Linked DNA regions of Homo sapiens. The protein of the gene in region 2 interacts with the protein of the main gene of each other region in a pairwise test. Each region holds a gene or a part of one and is shown on either strand. Other genes may lie near its edges.

What was found. Proteins that work in one complex are often made in the same cells at the same time.
Region 1: the proteins of FRMD6 (region 2) and RASSF8 interact in binary tests that used the Homo sapiens proteins (3 or more experiments, as listed by UniProt).
Region 3: the proteins of FRMD6 (region 2) and SYT17 interact in binary tests that used the Homo sapiens proteins (3 or more experiments, as listed by UniProt).

Annotation. Positions count from the first base shown.
Region 1 is NC_000012.12:25,953,835-25,961,698, forward strand, and holds the start of RASSF8 (ras association domain-containing protein 8), read left to right. Parts: upstream 1-4,847; 5' UTR 4,848-5,314; intron 5,315-5,491; exon of another isoform or gene 5,492-5,608; intron 5,609-7,864.
Region 2 is NC_000014.9:51,724,892-51,731,234, reverse strand, and holds the end of FRMD6 (FERM domain-containing protein 6), read right to left. Parts: intron 5,457-6,343; coding exon 5,365-5,456; intron 3,631-5,364; coding exon of another isoform or gene 3,598-3,630; exon of another isoform or gene 3,491-3,597; coding exon 3,206-3,490; 3' UTR 508-3,205; downstream 1-507.
Region 3 is NC_000016.10:19,171,232-19,178,256, forward strand, and holds part of SYT17 (synaptotagmin-17), read left to right. Parts: intron 1-1,103; exon of another isoform or gene 1,104-1,352; coding exon of another isoform or gene 1,353-1,383; intron 1,384-1,397; exon of another isoform or gene 1,398-1,523; coding exon of another isoform or gene 1,524-1,528; coding exon 1,529-1,546; intron 1,547-2,198; coding exon 2,199-2,347; intron 2,348-7,025. UniProt on the Homo sapiens protein: Plays a role in dendrite formation by melanocytes.

The DNA of each region.
Region 1 (7,864 bases), on a different chromosome or scaffold from region 2:
TGACCGAAGCACACAAGAAAAAGAAACAAAGGGTATAGAACATAAAATTCCTTGTGAGTTTCTTAAAGCCAGAGTTCATACCCCTGCAGTATTGTTATTAAAATATTTACTGGCGGTTTCTATCTGACCCAGTCAGATAACCGAGGCATCTAACTGGATCCAAGCCAGTTAATTATCAGATCCAATCAAATCCTGGACCCAGTCCAATGTCTATCGACTTCCAAACTCAGCTAAGATCAAAAATTTGCTCAAGCAAGCTTGAACAGCTGAAAACGGCAATGTATGGAGCTTCAGAATCTGAGAGAGAATGCAGCCACAATCTCCAGTTGCTGTAAGAGAGCAGTGGACACTGCGAGAGGACGGGCCCAGCAGGTACCCCTTGTGGTCACTCAGTGCTCCTGGGGGATCACTGGGAGCTCTACTTTGGGGTCCATTTCTGACACCATCTGTTAAAAGAAAAACTTCAGACAAATTAAATTTAGCAGAGCTCAATTGAACAAAGAATGACTTGTGAATCAGACAGACCCCTGAACCAGGATAGCTTTGGAGTGACTCCAGTGCTGCTGAGTGGTTGGAGAGAATTTATGGACAAAAAAGGAAAGTGACCTAAGAAAACAGAAGTAAGGTATAGAAACAGCTGGATTAGTTACACCATGACATTTCCCTTATTTGAGCATGGTTTGAACAGTTGGCCACCTCTGATTGGCTGAAACTTGGTGACTGGTACAAGAGTAGGTTACAATCTGTTTAATCATTGGGTTATAGTTCACTATGTATGAAGAACCTTTAGGTTAAACTTAAAATATTGAAGGAGGCAGCTTTAGGGTAAATTTAACACTAGGAAGCTGTAAGTAGTTTATTATGGGTGATACACAGAGTCGGGCAAGAAGGGGGGCAGAGGTGGAAAGACGGGTGAGACCAGGTAATAAAGAATCTTATGTTATATTCATAAGTCCATAATTTATTCCTGCCAGCACCACATACCTATTTGTTTAAAAATTTCATTTCCATAGCCCCCCTAGACTTCCTCATGAAGGAATTTCCTAAGACTTTGACCTTGATGAATTCTGATTCATTGACAATCCCTTCTTTATTTTCTTATTTTTATTTTTTCACTTTCTTATGGTCCTGAGACCACTCCTTTCTGAGTACAAGCATCTTGGCTGGCCTAGAATATAGTCACAACTGTGTTCCACGGACTTTACTGAAGGTGGAAACAACTGTCTTCCCAGCATCCCATCTGTACTGGTCCATTTGCATTGCTATAAAGGCAATTTATAATTCACAGTTTATTATGGCTCACAGTTCTGCAGGCTTATAGGAAGCATGGGACGAGCATCTGCTCCTGGTGAGGCCTCAGGGAGCTTCCAAACATGGTGGAAGGCAAAGGTGGAGTTGGCATATCACCTGGCAAGAACAGGAGCAAGAGAGAGAGGAGGAAGATCACAGACTCTTTTAAACATCCAGATCTTTCATGAACTCATTACTGCAGGGAAGGTACATAGCCACACAAGAGATTCCCCATCACCCAAATACCTTCCACTAGGTCCAACTCCAACATGGCGGTCACATTTCAACACGAAATTTGGAGGGAAAAAACATCCAAACAATATCACCATCTTACAGGCTGGTGTTGTCTGGTGGGCTGTTTGGGAAATACTGGTCTAGACACATTTCTCAAACTTGGCAATATGACTCCACTGGACATTAAAAAGGGATTTCCAGGTATTTCAAGATAAAGGGATTTATTCTCAGGAGCTGCAAACATAAGCTAGGTTTTCTTACAGTGTTAACATCTTGGTTTCAGTTACACGGGTCACCAGATTGATACAGATTTAGCTGAGGTAATAAATCACTGCTTCAGCAATCTTAACAGTCAAGTCAGTTATCTAACGATGATTTGACAAGTAATGAGGTCACCTGCCATTTCCTCCCATAAGTAATTCAACTGCATTTAGTTCATAATACATATGGCTAGAAAAGCATCTAAATCAATTCCTACGATCAGAGAGAGAGATGTCCCCATCACCATGAAGCAGAAGTTACAAAGAAATGGGGGAAGATGCTATGCAGTTGGCCTTAAACATAGAGAAAGGGACTATAAGCCAAGGAATGCAGGTGGCATCTAGAGGCTGAAAAGGGCAAGGAAATGGATTCTCCCCTCGATCCTCCAGAAGGAACACAGCCCACACTTTGATTTTAGATTTCTGACCTCCAGGTCTATAAGATGATCAATTCATCTCTCGATATGGCCTCCTCCTGTTCATTGCCACTGCTCTCCAGTTTAGACTCTCCCTTGGATCTGCCTCTTTTCTGAATCCATCCTCTCAAGTTGTTTTCTTAAAAATCAAATCTTATTATGTCACAGGGTTTGAAGTGCATGAATACTCACTGACTCTAGTTAGGCTCCTTTCCTGGAATATCATTAGAAACCAGAAGTAAGGGTTGTTTACAATTCCCATCAAGGACATTTGGTGTGATCTCAGGAAGGCTTAACAGGGATGTGATTATAGCTACCAAAAAAAAAAAAAAGCTTAAAACAAATTGTACTACACTCTGAAGAAAGAACGCATTAACCAAATGGGCTAGGTAGGGTAAAGATTTTTCTGCACTTATCCAGCACTGAATGGAGGCAAATTCACTGACTTTGGCAGCCATCAGTAAGACTGGAGGTGAGGATACCTGGATTTTTAGGAAGGGTTTTTCCTAAATAGTAGGTATTGTTATCCAATCAGGAAGTTCTGTCCTGATATAAATGCTCATCATATAAGAGTTAGTTATCAAGAGTCAGTCAACTTGCTCACCTCTAGATGTGGTAATACTGAGGTCCAGATCCTCCTGGTGATCAACACAAACTGGATTAAGAGTCAGCTACTCAGTCAGATCCTGAATCCTGGTCCAACGATAACCACACTCTTGCCTGCTACCTGCTTCAAGAAGTACACAAAAGAGGGATCACTACCACAGCCAAAGAAAGGAGGAAAGTTTTTTTTTTTTTTTTTTTTTTTTTTTTGAGATGGAGTTTCGCTCTTGTTGCCCAGGCTGGGGTGCAATGGCGTGATCTCGGCTCACTGCAACCTCTGCCTCCCAGGTTCAAGCGATTCTCCTGCCTCAGCCTCCCAGTTGCTGGGATTGCAGGCATGTGCCACCATGCCCGGCTAATTTTGTATTTTTAGTAGAGACGGGGTTTCTCCATGTTGGTCAGGCTGGTCTCGAACTCCCAACCTCAGGCAATCTGCCAGCCTTGGCCTCCCAAAGTGCTGGGGTTATAGGCATGAGCCACCGCGCCCGGCCAAAAGGCAGAAAGTTCTAAGAAGGAGAGGTCAACATTGGCAAATGCCACAAAGGGCACAAGATGGGAATTAAATTTTTCCATTAGATTTGGCAATTAAGCAATGGCTGATGTTGTTCAGTGGAGTGAAAGGCTGAGAAGGGAATGAGAGGTTAGGAAACATTCACCTTAAGGCTAGGCAACTCCTTTGAAAAGAGTCAAGTAGGGTTAAGGGAGGATCCATGCCCTCCAGGTTGACTTTTAAATCATATTCCCTTTGGTTTTGCATTTGAATCACAGTGAACTTTCTCCTCTCCAAATGTTGATTTGACAAATTTGAGTCTTACCATGGCTCTCTTCTCAGTCCACCTGCAGGTCAAGGAACTAATGAGGTGTGGAGTAACTAAAGGTCAAAAAACAAGAGGAAGAAACAAAGGGCCAAAAAACCCCAAACCTTAAATCAGGTCCTGAGTCAGATACGCTGTAACAAATTCTGCTTCAAGTTTAATATTCTTGTTTTGATGATGTTTAAAAAAAGAAAAATAAAAGCAAGTGTCTGGAAAATTAAAAGGCGGGGTGGGGGGGGGCATTTTAATTGGAATGCTTTCTTGTATCTCATCCACTATCCGCACCCCATCGCCCTGCAAATTAATAGCTGTTGCGGAGTTGGGGTATGTGTGACCACAAAATCCAAAGGCTGAATTTTGCCCAGTGCCTGAGTAATTGCATGCCACACACAAAAAAACAGTAGAATATTGAAAACAACATACACATCTGTATTTCCATATGAAAGCACCCGTTTCCTTTCTTGATTATCTGCTATTTTTAAAGGGGTTGGGAGTGCAGCGGGGCGGGGGGATGAGGCGTTTTTTCTGAATACGAGCCCAGCTCTTTCTAAACTTTTGTTACTCACGTCCGTTTGATTCATTTGCTGTGTTTTTTCTTTCTTTCTTTTTTTTTTTCCCCTCTCCTGCCTCTGTCATTGCCTGCTGCTAAGAGGGACGCTGAATCACAGCCACTGCAGATGAAAAGCAATTCAAACCCAGTCCTTGGAGGGGGGATGGAACGGCTCTTTTTGATTTTTTTCCCCTCTGCAGAAAAAGCCTCCTACTTTCCGGGTGACCGTAGAGGGCAGTTTGACAAGTCTCAGCCCCGGGCGATGGAAGATTTTGCCCGTGGGACCGTCACGAGCCACCGGTCATCTCCCCGCGCCCGGCTTTCGGGTCCTCAGGCCTCGGTGCGTCGCGGGCCAGGCGACAGCGGGGGGGCGTCGCGGGCCGGGCGAGCGTGGCCCGGTGGGCCCGAGGGTCGCGCCGAGCTCCCCGCCGCTTTAAAAGCTCCCACAATGCAGCGCTGGCGTCCCAGTTCCGTTACGAGGTCTCTCCCGGCGCCGGCGAGCGGGCCAGGCGCGGGCGGGGCGCGGAGGAGCGGCGGCTGAAACCCGAGCGCCCGGCCGAGGGGGGCGCCCCCGCGCCGCTCCTCTCGCGCGCTCAGCCGCTGCCCGGCGAAGGGGCGGAGCCGCCTGGCCGCCCGGCCCGGCCCGGCCCGGCCCGGCCCCCAGCCCGGCCCCCAGCCCAGAGGCACCGGCCGCGGGAGCGAGCGGGTCGCCGACTCCTACGCCCGCGCTCCTCCTACGCCCGCGCTCGTCCGGCGCCCCGCGCCGCGCCCCGCTCAGCGTCTGCCGCCCAGCTCCTCGCCCAGCCTCGCCGAGCCTCGCCCTTCCCGCCCGCGGCGGCGTTGGCGCTGGGGGCGGCTCCCGCGGCGTCTCTGCCGCTGGCCGAGCGCTCGCGCACCGCGGCACCCCCGCCAGTGGCGTCCACACTCACCTAGCGCGGGCCGGGAGGTGCGCGGAGAGGGAACGCCGGGGGGCCGGGGCCTCCAGCCGGTGCGGGGCGCGCGGCGCGGGGAGCGCCGGGGAGTGCCGGGGAGTGCGGCGCGGGGACGGGCGCTGGGCGGCCGCGGAGCTCCGGGTGCCGCCGCGTCCCCAGCGCCCCGGCCGGCCCCTCTGGGCGGCCTGCGGGGGCGGCGCAGTTGCGAAACTGAGTAAGTATTAACTTTACTTAGCGGCGGCGATCCGGGCTGCGCCGGGGACCCCGCCCGTCCCGCCTGCAGCCTCGGAGCTGCCCTCCGCCCGGTTGCCCCTCTCTCCGCACCTTGGGTACCTCGTCCGTTCCGCCCCCACCCTGCCCCGCCGCGGGCTCCCGCTCCCTCTGCGTTCACCTTTCCTGGTGTGTCACCCTTTGCGCCTCTCCTCGCGGCACACAAGCCGCGGACTGAAAAGTACGAGCTTGGTCTTTGCTTTTCTGCTTCCTCCCAGTGTCCTTGGCAAGGGAGTTTAGAGGCCACTTTTCTTGCAAAGGGAATTTTATGTCTGGTTTTTAAAATATTTTTTCCTCCGGATGGAAATCGGATGCTCGCTTGCCGGGTGGCGGTTTGGTGAACGCTTTTCTCCTCTAAAAAAATATTGGTTTATAGGTTTTTAAATTTCATTTGAACTATTAACCATCTGCATTCTATTCTCCTTTGCCGCCAGTCCCTTTGGGGAGGGGAGTCCAGAAGAGGGGACGTTCAAAGTAATTCTGACTTGCAAACTAGAAAGTTTGAGAGGGTAAATCGCACAAAGCCGGAAGATTCAACTTGAAGGGACGCGAGCTTTGAATGTGGGTCCTGGTGCGGCACTGGGTTTTAAAAGATGAGTACTTGGGTTCGGAATCCAGTGTTGCGTTGTTATTTTAGCATCATAGAGCCGCCTGGTGTTGCTAAACCACTACTTTCCCAGCCTCAAATGGCATCTTGAACAGTGCAACGTAGGATATATAATTGCGGGTCAATATTGTTGCTGATCTTTAGGGATTTAGAAGCGAAATGAATGCAAATCACGTCTCATAGCTGACTTAAACCTGTCAGGTTAGCCCTGTCAGGTTAGCATTAAAGCATTTCATTAAAAAAAAAAATCCTCTAGCCCTGTGACAGCAGGGACGAACATTTATGGATTTTCCAGTAGATTGTGGCTCAGCAATTCATTAGATCTGCTTTGTCCCCAGGAAGCATTTTAAAATATGTATAAATCTCTGCTTTTCTCTCCATTAGATTAACCACTCATTCTGGTAGGGGGCCCCAGGTAGTTTTTATTTTCTTTTTTGCCTTTCATCTTGGAGTTGCCAGGAGTTGCCATCATGTTATGAAGGAACAGAAAATGAGAAGCTTTCTTAATGGGTTTTCGACATCCTGTCCTTTGCCAGAGTGAGGCGGTAGTGAATGCCAGCCAGCTTTCTGCAGGGAGAGGTGCAGGGTGGACGCAAAAATCAGGACGCAGGAGACAGCACTATCATTTGGGGAAGTGGTTTGTGTGAGTTTTATCTTTTAGCGGGCATACTAATGGTACTTTTAATTTTATTTATCTCTATGAGGCACACTCCCCAAACCATAAAATTACACATGACCATCCCCCACTTGAAGAAGACTGAACATAGTTTGATGATTATTCTATTCAAGGATCAAGTACAACAAAATATAATTTGTAATACAGATGATAAAACCTTTCAAAAATCTCCCCCTTCCTCATTTTTTTCCTCAAGAGTCTCCAGGTGGTACTTTCTGTGATGGACACAATTGGCAGTAATGCACTGAGTTCTTTCTAGGTTTATTGATCAAATCTTATGTCTGGGCTTTAGTAGCTTAGGGGTGCATTAGAGGGCCCTGAGAGGGAGCAAATCATGGGGCTGTGCAGGCAGGAAAGGCACTTCACTTTGCAGAAGTGTCAGTGTGCTTCTGGAAAAAACAGTTACAAAGAACAGAGAGTGTTTAAGTTGTTTATAGGATGCATGTTTCCTGAATTTGGCATTTGGTTCAGATATTTGGTAATTACAGATTTAAAATTCGACATGGTTGTATAATTTGTTTTGCCTTTTATTTATTTTTTTAAGGTTGCAACCTTTTAACCTGAATCTTCAGTGTTTGGCTCTTGTAGGCTTCTATACGTGGTGACTTACGTCAGTTTTTGACCTGACTGCCTTGTGTTTTGAGAAATGATTAGTTCTTCAGGGTTTCTGACTCATTAATTGATCTGTTTTATGTTGATGTATATAATGACTTGGAAGTAAAAATATTGTTTGCCGTGGGATATTGTTGTCTTTTTCTTATGGTTAATTCCTGGCATAATGGCTTTGCTCCTTTATTATAAAACATTAAGATCTTAGATATCTTGCTAGTGTTCAAAACATTACAAAACTCTTTGCAAGTAAAAGTGGAGTGGGAATGGGAGTTGGATAGAAAAACATGCATCATAAATTAAAGATTTGGATTACAAAATAATATAACGTTTATTTACTCTTCTTTGATGCTAACTTGCTCTAACCCTAAATAGACTTAAAAATTCAAAGTGTAGAGAGAGTTTCCAAGTATTCTGTATAGTGGAAAGAATGTTTACCCCACTGCCAGCCAGACTTGGGTTGCACGTGTGACTTTGTCACTCCCGAGGTGAGTGAGCTCGGCCATGCCACTTCAGCCTCTGTGATCTACAGTTGCATTTCTGGAAAATGGGGATACCACTACTTAAAGGGATGCTATGGTGAGTAGAACATCTAATATATA
Region 2 (6,343 bases):
TCCTTAATGCCATGCTGCCCTCACGTTCAGCTTTGTGAATGCATGCTTTTAAATGCAACCATTTGTTTATTTTATAATTAAACCAACAGTCCAATGATGACGGTTTTCAGGTTTAAGTTACTTATTTTGGTTAAAATATTTCCTTTTAAAGGAGAGTTTTTTTCAGCTCCATAATTTGAACTCAACAGTGGCTGACTACCACAAACTCCTGGAAGCTTGATTCCTTCACATCTGCAACTAAGAATAATAATAGTACCTGCCTTCTGGGGATATGAGGATTAAATGACTGAACACATGAAATCTGAATACATGTGAAACTGGGTCTGGCACATGGTAGTACTCAGCATCAGTTATTACCATCGTCACCACCAGGACTGTTTTACTTGGAATTCTATCACATGGAACCTTGTTGTCCTTTACTGTGCTCCATTACAGCAAAGAACATGAAGAAAACACTGTCACTCCTTAATGCTTCTCGCTTGAGAGCTCTAATAATCAAAAAGGCAATTTAAAGGCAAAAAAGTAACTTTATTGACTGCTAATCTTACCATGAAATATCTATAAGAAATAATTACAAAATAATGCAGGTTTCTTTTTACATACTTTTGGTATCATCTTGATATGATGATCCTTTCACAGAAAGGATTATTTACAGTTTATGTAGATATAAAGCTCACTGTTGCATATACAAATGTAGATGTGCAGAGGCAATATATACCAAAACGGGTATACTGACAAGCGATAGATATGTAAGAAATGCAGAATAAATAACAGCTTTATATATTTCCTTTCCTTTTTATTTTTAAAAACAATTTCCAAATACAAAACATGGATTATTCAAAGTGGATTTTTCCTATACATATATATAATTCTGCTGCAAACAGTGGATCAAAAAGCAGAAGTGTTCTTAGCATGATTCATCTTTGAAAACCCATAGAACTATTCATAAATCCAATTAGAAAGAACATGTGCAAAACCACCAACAATGTCAGCAAAACCTCAAAGATCTGATTTTGGTTGAAGTAGAGAGAAAATAAACATAAAGCAGTACCTGTTTACAGTAATTAAATATGTTTTTTCTTTATCTTTCTTTCTTAAATATGTCTTTTTTTAAATGTTTGCAAGAAACTCTAAGGGCTAAGGAAATGCACTGCATTATGATCTGGGCTCCTTAGAGTACAAACCTCACCAGGCTTAAGCATCATCCATAAGAAATGGTGGATTACTTAATGACTTATAAGTAAAACAGTCATTAAATGATCCTTTCATACTTTAATCCTCTTATGCAGAGACTGAGATACTTCCATACATTCCAATATCTGCAACTTTGGTTCTATTAAAGTATTTGATAAAAGCAAAACAATTTTGTGACCACAGAACTCTATGGAACTTTTTTTCCTTTTAAAGTGTCAGGTGAACCTAGCGTGATAAGGCAATGTTGCCTACACATCCGCGACCCAGCACAGGAGGGACAGCACAGACAGGGCATGTTCCAGCTCACCATTTGTTGTATAATACTGACTCCCAGCCAGGGGTAACACTGCTTATGTTCCACTGTACCCTACATCTATTTCGTTACCTGAAAACATAATTTTGTATAAAAATATGATTGTTTCTTTAGAAAATAATATATAGTTTTTTTAATAAAACTGGGCAGATAGAAAAAAATGGTATATCAAAATATGGTAAACAAATGTTGTAAAATACTAAATCATTAAAAATATCTTATAGAAAGACATTGTGCTATGAAGTTCTCTCCTGAAGTGTGAACTACGTTTTTACTTTACATCAAAAGATTGATAAATTCACTCCCCTGACTTGGTTTCATTATATATTGTAACAGCAGCACAACAGGTAACTGTCTTAAAAATGGCCCTTTCTCATACACTACGTCTTCTGTACACTTTTACTTCAAAATTAACAAGACACCCCCAGGATCAGTGGTTTTCAACTTTGTTGCATATTAGCTCCATCTGGAGAACTTTAAAAGAAAAGGCAATTCTACTTGGGTCCCGCCACAAGAGAATGATGTAATCGGTCTGGTGGGAGACTCAGTCATTATTTTTTAAAAGCTCCCCCCAAAATTCTGTTATACAATCAGTGTTGAGAATCATGGCCAAAGGCACATGAGAAAACAGTCATTCTGAACTCTACATATATCAACTGACTGTCTGCAGGTATCATTCACTCAGTGACATATTCTCAATCTTAAGGAATTCCATGTATAAAAGATAGTCATGGAAGCCAAAATGAAGACATAGTAAGCTTTAAACACATATAGACATACACAATCCCATGTATTTATATATGTATAATATATACACAGAGTATTTTGGTTAAGCAGAAACTAGCATTGCCATAATTTGTTCTTGATAATTAAACAAATAAAGCATCACCAAGCACCAACGTTTTCTAAGACATTTTCCAAAGTTTTAACAGACACTGGTTTTGTAAACTCCACAAAATGCATTACAACATGAATATAATTCATCTGTTACTTGGATGTGGAACTCAAATGAATCCTGGAGCTTTCTGGAAGATCACAAAAGAGGACATGGCACTGAGCGGGATGAAGGAGTCACAGGCATCACAGCATGCACTTCTGGTTTTCTGCTTATTGCTTATGTGCTTCTGTCACATACGTATCTTTGGCTTGCTACAACCTTATGATTTTGACCACTCCATCAGTGTTCACTTTGGGACAGCCTCAGGGAGGAAGCAATGGGTATACAGAGCAATCATCTCTCTGTTAAAAGAAGAGAGAATCTTCCCTCTTTCCTCTCCCAAACTATGAGCATTTTATGTGGGAGTGGTAAAAAATTTATAAGCAAACAAATCTAACATCTTTCACGTGATAAAAAAATGTGATGTTACATGTAACTGAACTAAAAAGCATCAGATGAGCAAACACACCACACTCCAATATTCTGAAGGCTTTGCAATCAGTAAAGCGCATTTCCTTCTGAAGGATCAGTGAACTTCCGGGCACTTGTCTTGCTGTACATTTTCTGTAGTTCTTTTACTTCTGTGTAATACTTAAAGTGCAATTGTTCCAAGGCTTTTGTTTCCATCATCACAAATATTATAAAGAAAGAGCTATGTTTAGGGTGAAGAAGATATGGCACAAGTAATATGTAAAGAACTTATGACTTTCGCATCCTCTAGCAAACAGTAAGCTGCCTGTACAGCTGCACACAGACGGACTTTACACAACAAACTCTGGAACTTCATCATGAGTGAGATCCAGAGAAAAGTATTTGCTGGTTCTTTTGACTGGAAAAGCATCTTGGATGTTGATGCACTGCTGGGCCAAGCAACTGTTGCAATAGAGGCCTTCCTCATCCAGTTCATGGCCACATCCAAAGGTGTAACTCTGAGCAGTGTCCTGACACAGACCTGCAATGCGCAGGAAGTCTTTCTGGTAAAGTCTGATGTCATCGAGGCTCAAGCTGTGTCGATCAGTGGAGGTCTTTGGTTTCCGACATATAGTCTGCAAGATAAGGGAAGGATGAAACAACTTTAAAGTGAAAGGTTAGAATATTTGCCTTGTAAAGAGAGATGCTACAGAACCACAAAAGGTTAAGTAATCCTTACATGTTAGAAAGTGGTTTCCAATCTGTGGTTTCTGGGCTGTATGGGGAAATATATCATCAACACCACCTCCATCAGTAATAATAGCAGCTAACATTTACCGAGCAATTACTATGTGCCAGGCCCTGACCTAAATACTCGGCATGCATTAACTCATTTAATCTTCCTAACAGTCCTAGGAAGCAGGCACTATCATTCTCCTCATTTTACAAATAATCCAAAGCACAGAGGTGCAAATACAACAGGAATCCAACTATCCCTAGCATTTCAGAAATCAAGTAATTATCTTGAAATAAGGTCATATAGGTAAAGACATGGCTTCCTTTTTTTTTTTCAGTAGGATATGGCAATTCAGACCTTTTAGGCCAAGGTCTGTTATTATTTTATTAAGAAATAGGAAAATAAACCAATTATTACCAAGAAACACAGTTTTTCTCTTTAAAAGGCCAGAATTCTTGGGTTGAATATAAAGTGTTCTTGGTGCTGGGTAGGATATAGGGTGTTCTTGGTGTTGAAGAGGCTGGGAGGCAGGCACCAGGACTAAGTTCCCGAACACGAGTCGGGGGTGGGGGGGTTCCGCCAAATGCTGTACACAGCAGGGGGCAGACTTTTTTTTATTATCCCAAGAGGTGGTATTAGAAATAGGTTAAAAATGATTCTGATAATTATATGAATGGAAGATATGCAATGGGTTATTTAAGGAAACCAGGTATTATATCTTTAAATTTTGCTGCTTCCCACCACAAAGGACAACCCTGTTAGAATAAGATACAATTTTTGCTAGAGGCAAAAGTTCCAGAAGCATGTTTTACTAGGAAGTGTCACATCCGAGTGATCCCTTGTGCTGATGCTGTCTTCCCAGACTCCAACAGGATTTCACACATAGAATCATTTGGTCATCCCCACAAACTCTCAAGGAAGGCACACAAAGTTCTCCCCATAGTGTAGGTGTGGAATCTGACTATCAGCTGTGCCCCAGAAACATCTCTTAAGAGTAGATTACTCATTGCAGTTTTCAGGAAAATATTTCATAAACATCATTTTCACATTATGGTTACTTCAACGCAAGTAAGAGAAAGAAAAGACAAATGAGAAAAAAGGGAGGAAAGAGGAAGAGAAAAGTAGGGACAAGGAGAGCCAGAATGCAAATGAAAAAAGAGAAACACACACAGAAGGGAAAAAAACAAGACACAAAGAGAGCCCAAGAAAGAAAGGCAGGAGGAGGGAGGAAGTGCTCAGGAATTAGGGCCATTAGTCATACATTACATCCAAATGCTGAAACCATGAGTTTCAGAGTATTTTATCTATATTGCTGGACATTTAATAGTTTAACCAATGATCACAGGTTGTCAAATGCTCTAGGCTCAGCATACTTTGAAAATTCAATCTGAATGGAATAACCAGAGTGTGGAAACATTTCTGCCAGAACACACTGACAAAAAATATTATTCTCCCAGGTTGAGGACAAGCAACACACACAGACACATGCATGTGCACACGTGGTTCGCCTGAAGCCTGAAGAACAGAGGCTTCCCAACCATATAAAATGTGAAGCAAAATCTATAACTTATCTAAGTAAAAATCAACTCAAAGATAAGCAGAACTAGCAAATAAGATGGAAATAAATTCAGAATAAAGCTAGAATGTACGTATCTAGGAAGGATCATTTCCTTAGGGTTTTTAATTTTTGCTCATTTGTATAAATGTAAGTTACTACTTAAAATTTTCTATAACTTCAGTTTCCTAACTGATATTTTTCAATTCCTTTAATACCTGTGGAAGAGAATCAGTACTCTGGCCACGAAGCTTAACAACTGTTTCTGAAGAGCTCGAGGTGGAAGACCCAATTTCTTTCACAATCAACCCTGAAATAAAACACAGAGATAAAAACAATAAATACTTCAAATTATTCACACCTCTTGCCATATATTCTGACATATTGCTATCAGGAATGAAAAATCAAATATTAACCATTACCAAAAAGTTTCACTGTGACTCTTTGGTGGCAGACAACCAGAACAGCACACACACTCTCTCTCATCTTACAGTAAATAGAGGTTAATGAGTCAAAGTAGGGTTAGAGTGTAAGAAGATGTTTAGTCTGAATTTTCTAAAACAAACTTCTAATTAAGCTATTTATGATGAAGTTATAGAAAAGAAGCAAAGACTATAGGTATAAAGCAGCCTCTTTACTGCATCTCATAAAGCTTCCCCTCTTCCCCTTTCTATTCAGCAGCAACATTAAACTTAACCCTTACTGAACACATGCCTTCTAGATTTGGTTCGGCTTGGATGTATAGTGGTGAATTGTGGGGGCTCTGGCCTCTGAAGTCAGATAGATCTGGCTGGATCCTGGCCCAGATAACTAATTAGCCATGTGTCCTGGCCAGTTACTTAGCCTCCCAGTGTCTCAGTCTCCTTCTCGTATAAAATCGGGCCAATAACAGCACCTGCCTGCTAGTTTTAATAATTACACAGTGAATGCATAAAAGGGTGAGGTACAGGGACTATACATGGATACACTCAGTTCACAGCAGCTCTTTTTGGGTGATGGGACACTTGGCACATACCTCCTGCAGCAGATCCCCCTGGGAGGAGACAAACTGGGAGGCCACAGTGAAAATTCAGTACTGGGTCTTTGAGAACAACAGAGCACCTAACCTAAGCACTTTAGCACTCGGTGGAAACCCGCCAAAATTTCAGAAGCAGAAATCCAGGGCTGACATTTCCCTATGTGACTGGCATATGAGTG
Region 3 (7,025 bases), on a different chromosome or scaffold from region 2:
TATTCCCTTACCACTTCGAGGATTTCAATTTTTTCACAAGCCACGTACCACCTATACTATGATGATGATGATGATGATGATGATGATGATGATGATTATGATTATTATTTTAGACAGGGTCTCACTCTGTCGCCCAGGCTGGAGTGCAGTGGTGCGATCTCGGCTCACTGCAACCTCTGCTTCCCAGGTTCAAGTGATTCTCCTGCCTCAGCCTCCCCAGCAGCTGGGATTACAGGCGCCTGCCACCACGCCTGGCTAATTTTTTGTATTTTTAGAAAAGAGGGGGTTTCACCATGTTGGCCAGGCTGGTCTCAAACTCCTGACCTCAGGTGATCCACCCGCCTTGGCCTCCCAAAGTACTGTGATTATAGGCATCAGCCACCACGCCCAGCCCTACCTATGCTATTATTAACTTAATTTTTTTTCTATAAATGGGCTCATTTTTATTTTTACTTTAAAAAAATCATATGAAAAGGAAACATTATGTCACTAATATCATAGGAAACCAAGATCATGTGACATCGCAGAAGGCAACTAGAAGAATAAACCCAATGGGAATAATGCCACATTACTGAATTCTAGGTGGACGTGGCTGTCTCCAAGCCTCTGGACAAGATCTACTTTCTTTGTTTAAAAGAAAGGGGATGGGGGAGGGTGGAAATTGGTAAGTGGTAAAAGATGTTAACATGTAGTGGTACCAAATTGAGACTTTCTCCTCCTTAAAGGAGAATCGGAAAAAAGATAATAACTTTCTCCCTCTTGATTCAAAGTTCTGAGTTTGAGTCCCACCTCAGTTCACCTCTGGGACATGCCCGAGGTTGGGATGCAGTACTTCTAACCTATCTAGCCTACTTGGCCCATTTGGAAAACCACCTTAAAGAGAAGGAGGGAGTCTGTGCCTTGAGAACCCAGGAGACGAAGATGGGGAGGCGGGGTGGGGCCACAACAGGAAGGGAGGACCTCCTTCCTCAAGAGGACCAGATTAGGGCTTCCTTTTTAGTTCCCTCTATTTGTGGGTGGTGATAGGAAACACCCCACCATCACCATTGGAGCAGAATTGGAAGGTAGGGCCTCCGGGAGGGCGGGGGAGCCAAGTAACATCCACTGTGTGCCTGCCTGCATGTTAGCTAATCATGTCCTTTTGGGTTGGCTACATGGCTATTTCTGTATAGGAAGGTTTGCTCTTCTCCTGAAGTGTGGCTGCATTGGATAGCATGACTATCTATCCGCCCGCTCTGATTCATAACAGCATACGGTGCAAATCAAATCGAAATGCTAAAGTTTCCCATTTATTTGGTGTTGGTTAACCAGGAGGCTACCAGCAGCCCTGAAAATAGCAACACCTTGTTAGGATGTTAGGAAGTCAGCTCCCTTCCCAGGATGGTAAGTGGAAATATGCAGGGCTTTTTTTTTTTTTTGTAAAATTTTTTTGAGTTGCTGGAATATTGCTAAACTGGTCTTGTCTCTCTTTCTTTAACCCCTTCGTTCCCTTACGCCCTTGGCTTCATCGTGGATCTTAAAAGGGCAGTTGGAACCATTAAACGAGGTGGGTTCATTTGATGATTTGTTTGGTCTGGTTTCTAATCAAGAAATGCCTGACTTTCATTTTGGAGTCTTATGTGGGGCTGTGGGGATATTGAATATTCAACAATAACCTGGTGTTAATAACGGCACAGTTTCCATTCCTTTCTACCGAAAGGAGATCCCGGTTTTGAAAAGACACCAGTTGACAAGACAAGTTTCCCTCTCCACCCCTACTTATTCCGTTTGATTATCTCTGTCTGTTTCATGTCACCGAGATTTTTTAAAAATATTTTTTCCCCTGCTTTCAAGAAGACACAGTAATATTCATTGTGTTTCGAACATATCGTATAGCCCTTATGATGTTGTATAAACCACCCACATGTCAAGAAAGACGTTCACATAAACTACAAAAGAAAATACCTGCAAATGTTTTGCTTGCTACTAACGGCTCCAGCGAGTTGATGTTTGCTATCTTTGTGCCTGCAGTTGGTAAATAGAAATGGAAAACATTTTGTTCTAAGTGCTGAGCAGCAGAGCCAGAACTCCTGAATGTCTATTTCTCATCCGAGATCGGCTGCTTGTAATTTTGGGTGTTGTTTCTCCTCTTCCTCTTCCCCACCCTGCCCACCTCCCCTCTCCCCCATCCCCCCGCCCACCTCCCCCAATGGCCTCAGGGTTTTCTTTCTAGAATCTCTGGTCTGCTGCTGTGCAGATGGACCTGCCGGCACTGCTGTCAGAAGTGCTACGAGTCCAGCTGTTGCCAGTCAAGTGAGGATGAAGTTGAAATTCTGGGACCTTTCCCTGCTCAGACCCCTCCCTGGCTGTAAGTAAAACTGCTCTGAACTTCTCTGAAATCAATTTCAAGACTTTTCCTTTTTAATGAGAAGGCGGGTTGGGGGTCTGGGCCACGGGAGGGAGGATTTGGGGGCATGAAAGAGAAGCAGGCTGAGTTTCCAGGGACAACTTTGCTGCAGACTGGGGATATGTTCTGTACCCCTCATTTTGTTCGGCAAGCTGGCGAGACCAGCTGGTGGTGTGGTTTTAGTTCACCTAGTGGCACATCGGGCCTTCTGAGATACGAACCGTGTAATGCTAAGCGTGTGGGCGTTTTTAGTCACGTGGAGCGTGGTTCCGAGCAGAAAAGGAGATCTGTGAGCCGAGCCTCTATATTCTTCAGGGGCTGACCGCATTCTGAGGGTTTCCATCCAAGTCAGCGTGACAAGATTCCCTAGCACTTAGCCCAGGGCCTGCACATAGTAAAAGCTCGATAAATATCCATTGCATGGATGGGTAGACGGAATGAACAAACAAGTGCCTTTTTGCTGCTCCGAACAAGAACTTCAGAAACAGGGAAGCAGAAAAGCACCTCCAGGCTCCATCCTGTCCTCCAACGCTGTTTATGTTCTCTCTGGCATCTTTCGTTTTATTTCTAATTTGCTCTCCTCCCGCGCCTGCATACAACATCTCCATCTGCCAGTCGCTCAGATATTTTGGGAACGCAGTTTTGAAGCTTCTCAGCCACGTGCCTGGTCCACCTCTCCGTGACTGAGAGAGGGACGTGGTCAGAGAGCCTGGGTACAGTCAAGAAGGTCGGGGCTGGGAAGGATCAAGAAGTCATCAAGTGAGCTTGTCATGCTTCGGAGGGGCAGGCCCAGAGAGGGAGACAGACAGCGGCCAGGACCCACAGCTGGAGCCTGGCAGAGTGGAAGGAGGCAGCGCTGTTTCAGCTCAGTCCTTGGCCTGAGATTCCAAAAGTCTCTGGTGTCCCATCTTTCCCTCCAAGCTGGGGGCTCATGCCTCAGGCCTCTCATTTTCTCTTCTTAGAAGCAAGTATCAAATATTTCCATAGCAAAATGGTTCTGTATCCAGGCTCTGTGGTCTCAACTACTATTTCGAGTTCTGTGACCTTGGGCAAGTGGTTTGATCTCTGTGTGCCTTGATTTCCCATCTGTGAAATGGGATGATAAAAAGAATAGTATTTCTCTCAGAGTTGTCGAAGGGAGTCAATGAATTTGGAATGTGGAAAAGTAGTTAGGAATGCTTGATACTTTGTTGGTGATCATACATGTAAGTAACTCTGGCTGGGCGCAGTGGCTCATGCCTGTAATCCCAGCATTTTGGGAGGCTGAGGGCAGGCGGATCACTTGAGCTCAGGATTTCGAGACCAGCCTGGGCCACATAGTGAGACCCCCCCCATGCCCCATCTCGACAAAACATCAAAAAATTAGCCGGATGTGGTGATGTGTGCCTGTGGCCCCAGCTACTCTGGAGGCTGAGGTGGGAGGATCGCTTGAGCCTAGGAGGTTGAGGCTACAGTGAGCTGTGATTGCGCCACTGCACTCCAGCCTGGGAAAGAATGAGACCCTGTCTCAAAAATAAATACATAAATAAATAAATGAGATATGCATATAATATGCTTAGCACAGAGCAAAAGTTTTATAAGCATTTATTTCTGTCAGTATTAGGTTTCAATAGAGATTAATTAAACTGATACAAACACAATGTTAAAGAACTCTTCCATTATTCATTATTCATAAGTTGTGGCCTGAATCCTACAGGTGTGTGTAGAGTTGAGATTTTTGGTGAAAGCAACTCATTAATCAAGAGATAATTCACAGCCGGGTGCCGTGGCTCTCATCTGTAATCCCAGTGCTTTGGGAGACTGAGGTGGGAGGACTGCTTGAGGTCAGGAGTTTAAGACCAGCCTGGGCAACACGATGAGACCCCTATCTCTACAAAAATTTAAAAAATTAGCTGGGCACGTTGGTGCCTAGAGTTCCAGTTCTTCGGGAGGCTGAGTTGGAAGGATCGTTTGAGCCTGGAAAGTCAGGGCTGCAGTGAGCTATAATCACGCCACTGCAGTCCAGCTTGCGCAACAGAGCAAGACTTCAAAAAAAAAAAAAAAAAAAAAAGGATTCTACTGGTCTATGTAGCAGAAGTTAGTTCAGTCCATCTGATGTCCTTAAAGCTATGCTCACAAGAATGCTATCTCCATGTGGGCAGGGAGTTTTGCCTGCCTTGTTCACTCAGAAAAAGTTGTTGACTGACAGACTATCCTGCAGGCAGAACTTGCATCCTGAAAGTGCCAATCATCAGTTGAAAAGTTAATCTCAGTTCCTTTTGTAGTTATTTCTTAAGTACAGTGTGCCAGGCGCTGTGGTATACACAGGGCTAGATAGGGTCCTGTGACCATGCTCAGGGAATTTTCAGTCTCACGTAGGAGGTAAGGCAGGTATGTAAGTCAGGTTGCCCCCTAGAGTTGTGCATTTACACCCTGCATTCCATATATGACAGTCCTGCATAAGACCTTGTTATGAAAGAATCAGGAATGATGGCTTCAGGCATAGCTGGATCCAGGAGCAGAAATCATGTCATCAGAGCCTTTCTCTCTCTCTCTTTCTTTCTCTGTTTCTTCTGTATTGGCCTCATTGTTAAGCTTGTTTTCTCCATGTGGCAGCACTAGACTTGCATTCTGTTGCGGTTGCATAAAAAACGAACAAACAAACAAAACAAAACCAGGAAAGACTCTTATTAGCCTGGCTCGGGTTATGTACCAATCACTTTCACTTGGAGGAAATGGTGCTAGAATCATGCCAGTTACCTGCCCACCCAGGAAACCAGGGAGATGGTCATTTCCACCAGAAACACAGGAACTGAACTATTAGACCAGGGGTTGGCAAACTTTTAAAGGACCAAATAATAAATATATTAGCCTCATGGGCCATATGGTCTCTGTTGCAGCTACTTATTTCTACCATTGTTATGCAGAAGCAGCTGTAGACAGTAAATGAACGGGCACGTCTGTGTTTCATTAACACTTCATTTACAAAATCAGGCAGTGAATTTGGCTTTGTAGTTTGCAGACCCCTGTAATAGACAATTGGGGTATTGTGACTAGAGGGGAGGAAATTGACTAGAGAGGTGGGCAGACATCACCCCTTGTAGAGATAGGCGTCTCATTGTGTTGCCCAGGCTGGTCTTAAACTCCTGACCTCAAGCAGTCCTCCCACCTCAGCCTCCCAAAGCACTGGGATTACAGGTGAGAGCCGCGGCAACCGGCTGTGAATTATCGCTTGATTAATGAGTTGCTTTCACCAAAAATCTCAACTCCACACACACCTGTAGGATTCAGGCCACAACTACATCTAGGAAGAGCTGGGGGAGCCTGCAAGCTTAGGCTGAGTTGGGTCTTGAATGCCAGAGTAAGGAATCTGGATTTTCTTCGATACCAGCGGAGACCCCTCACAGGTGTTGAGTATCACAGCCAGGTACCTGTTTGCCCCCTAGATATCCAAATGTTGAGTGTTACAGATGCACAGCCTAGGTTCTCATGTTGAGCTGGAGGACAGTTGCGTTTTGCCTTGACTGCTGCTAACCCTTTGTGTAAGCAGGGGCAAGGGGGCTGGGACCCTCTGGGAAGATACTTCTTTTGGTTTTGCCACTAGTAGAGAAGTGGACTGGAACTTTCCCAGCAGGGCCAATACACCACAAAATTCCAGGTGGCGCCATTCACATGGTGGCCATTATGAATGGCACCACCTAGGGTTGTGCAGTCTACAGACTGAACAGCTGTGCGTGACCTTTGTGCTTCCCAGGATGAATGAGGTCTCTTCTGAACACTGGGCAGTGCTTAATACAGTTTTGACACTCAGCATAATGCAAAACGGTAAGAGAAATCTGTAAAGGGAAGATGGCTAAATCATTCAGAAAGTAAATTTACAGCTTTGTGTTTTCCCCAGATTTATTTACCAAGTGGGCAGCTGCATGTTATCAAACAGACAGGAAGTAGAAATGTCAAGTGTATGGGCTTTGCAGTGCTGTTCCTACTGCGACATTTGAGCCAAGAACCATGGGACTTGCCTCTGTGGACTGGCATGTGGCAGATGAGCTGGCCCTTTGTGTGTGCTCTGCGTGTGATCTTGGGGATACATTAATTGTCACATATGCTCATGTCCTGTGGGCCCCCAACTTTTCTTGGCTGGGCTGGGCTGGTGAAGATTAGGAAAACTGCACAATCTGACTGGTGCTTTTTGAAGCAATGCCAGAAAGACCCTCATTGAAGAGTGAATTAAAGTCAAGTTGGTTGATTGTTTGTCGAACAAGCACATATTGAATGCCTACAATGTGCAGAGCTCTTACAGCCCTCTCAGAGATGCCCCACTTGGCGATTGGGAGTGTGTGCCATTTAGAGTTTAGCATTACTGGCTTAGCTGGGGTTCTGCCTTTTAACAGTGGTGCAAATTAGTTATTCATCCTTCTCCCAACCTGTATTAGTTTGTTTTCTGTTGTGATAAAGGGATACCCAAGACTGGGTAAGGTTCAAGTGATTCTCCTTTTTTTTTTTTTGAGACGGAGTCTAGCTCTGTCGCCCAGGCTGGAGTGCAGTGGTGCAATCTCGCTCACTGCAAGCTCTGCCTCCCGGGTTCATGCCATTCTCTTGCCTCAGCCTCCCGAGTAGCTGGGACTACAGGCGTCCGCCACCACGCCCGGCTAATTTTTTG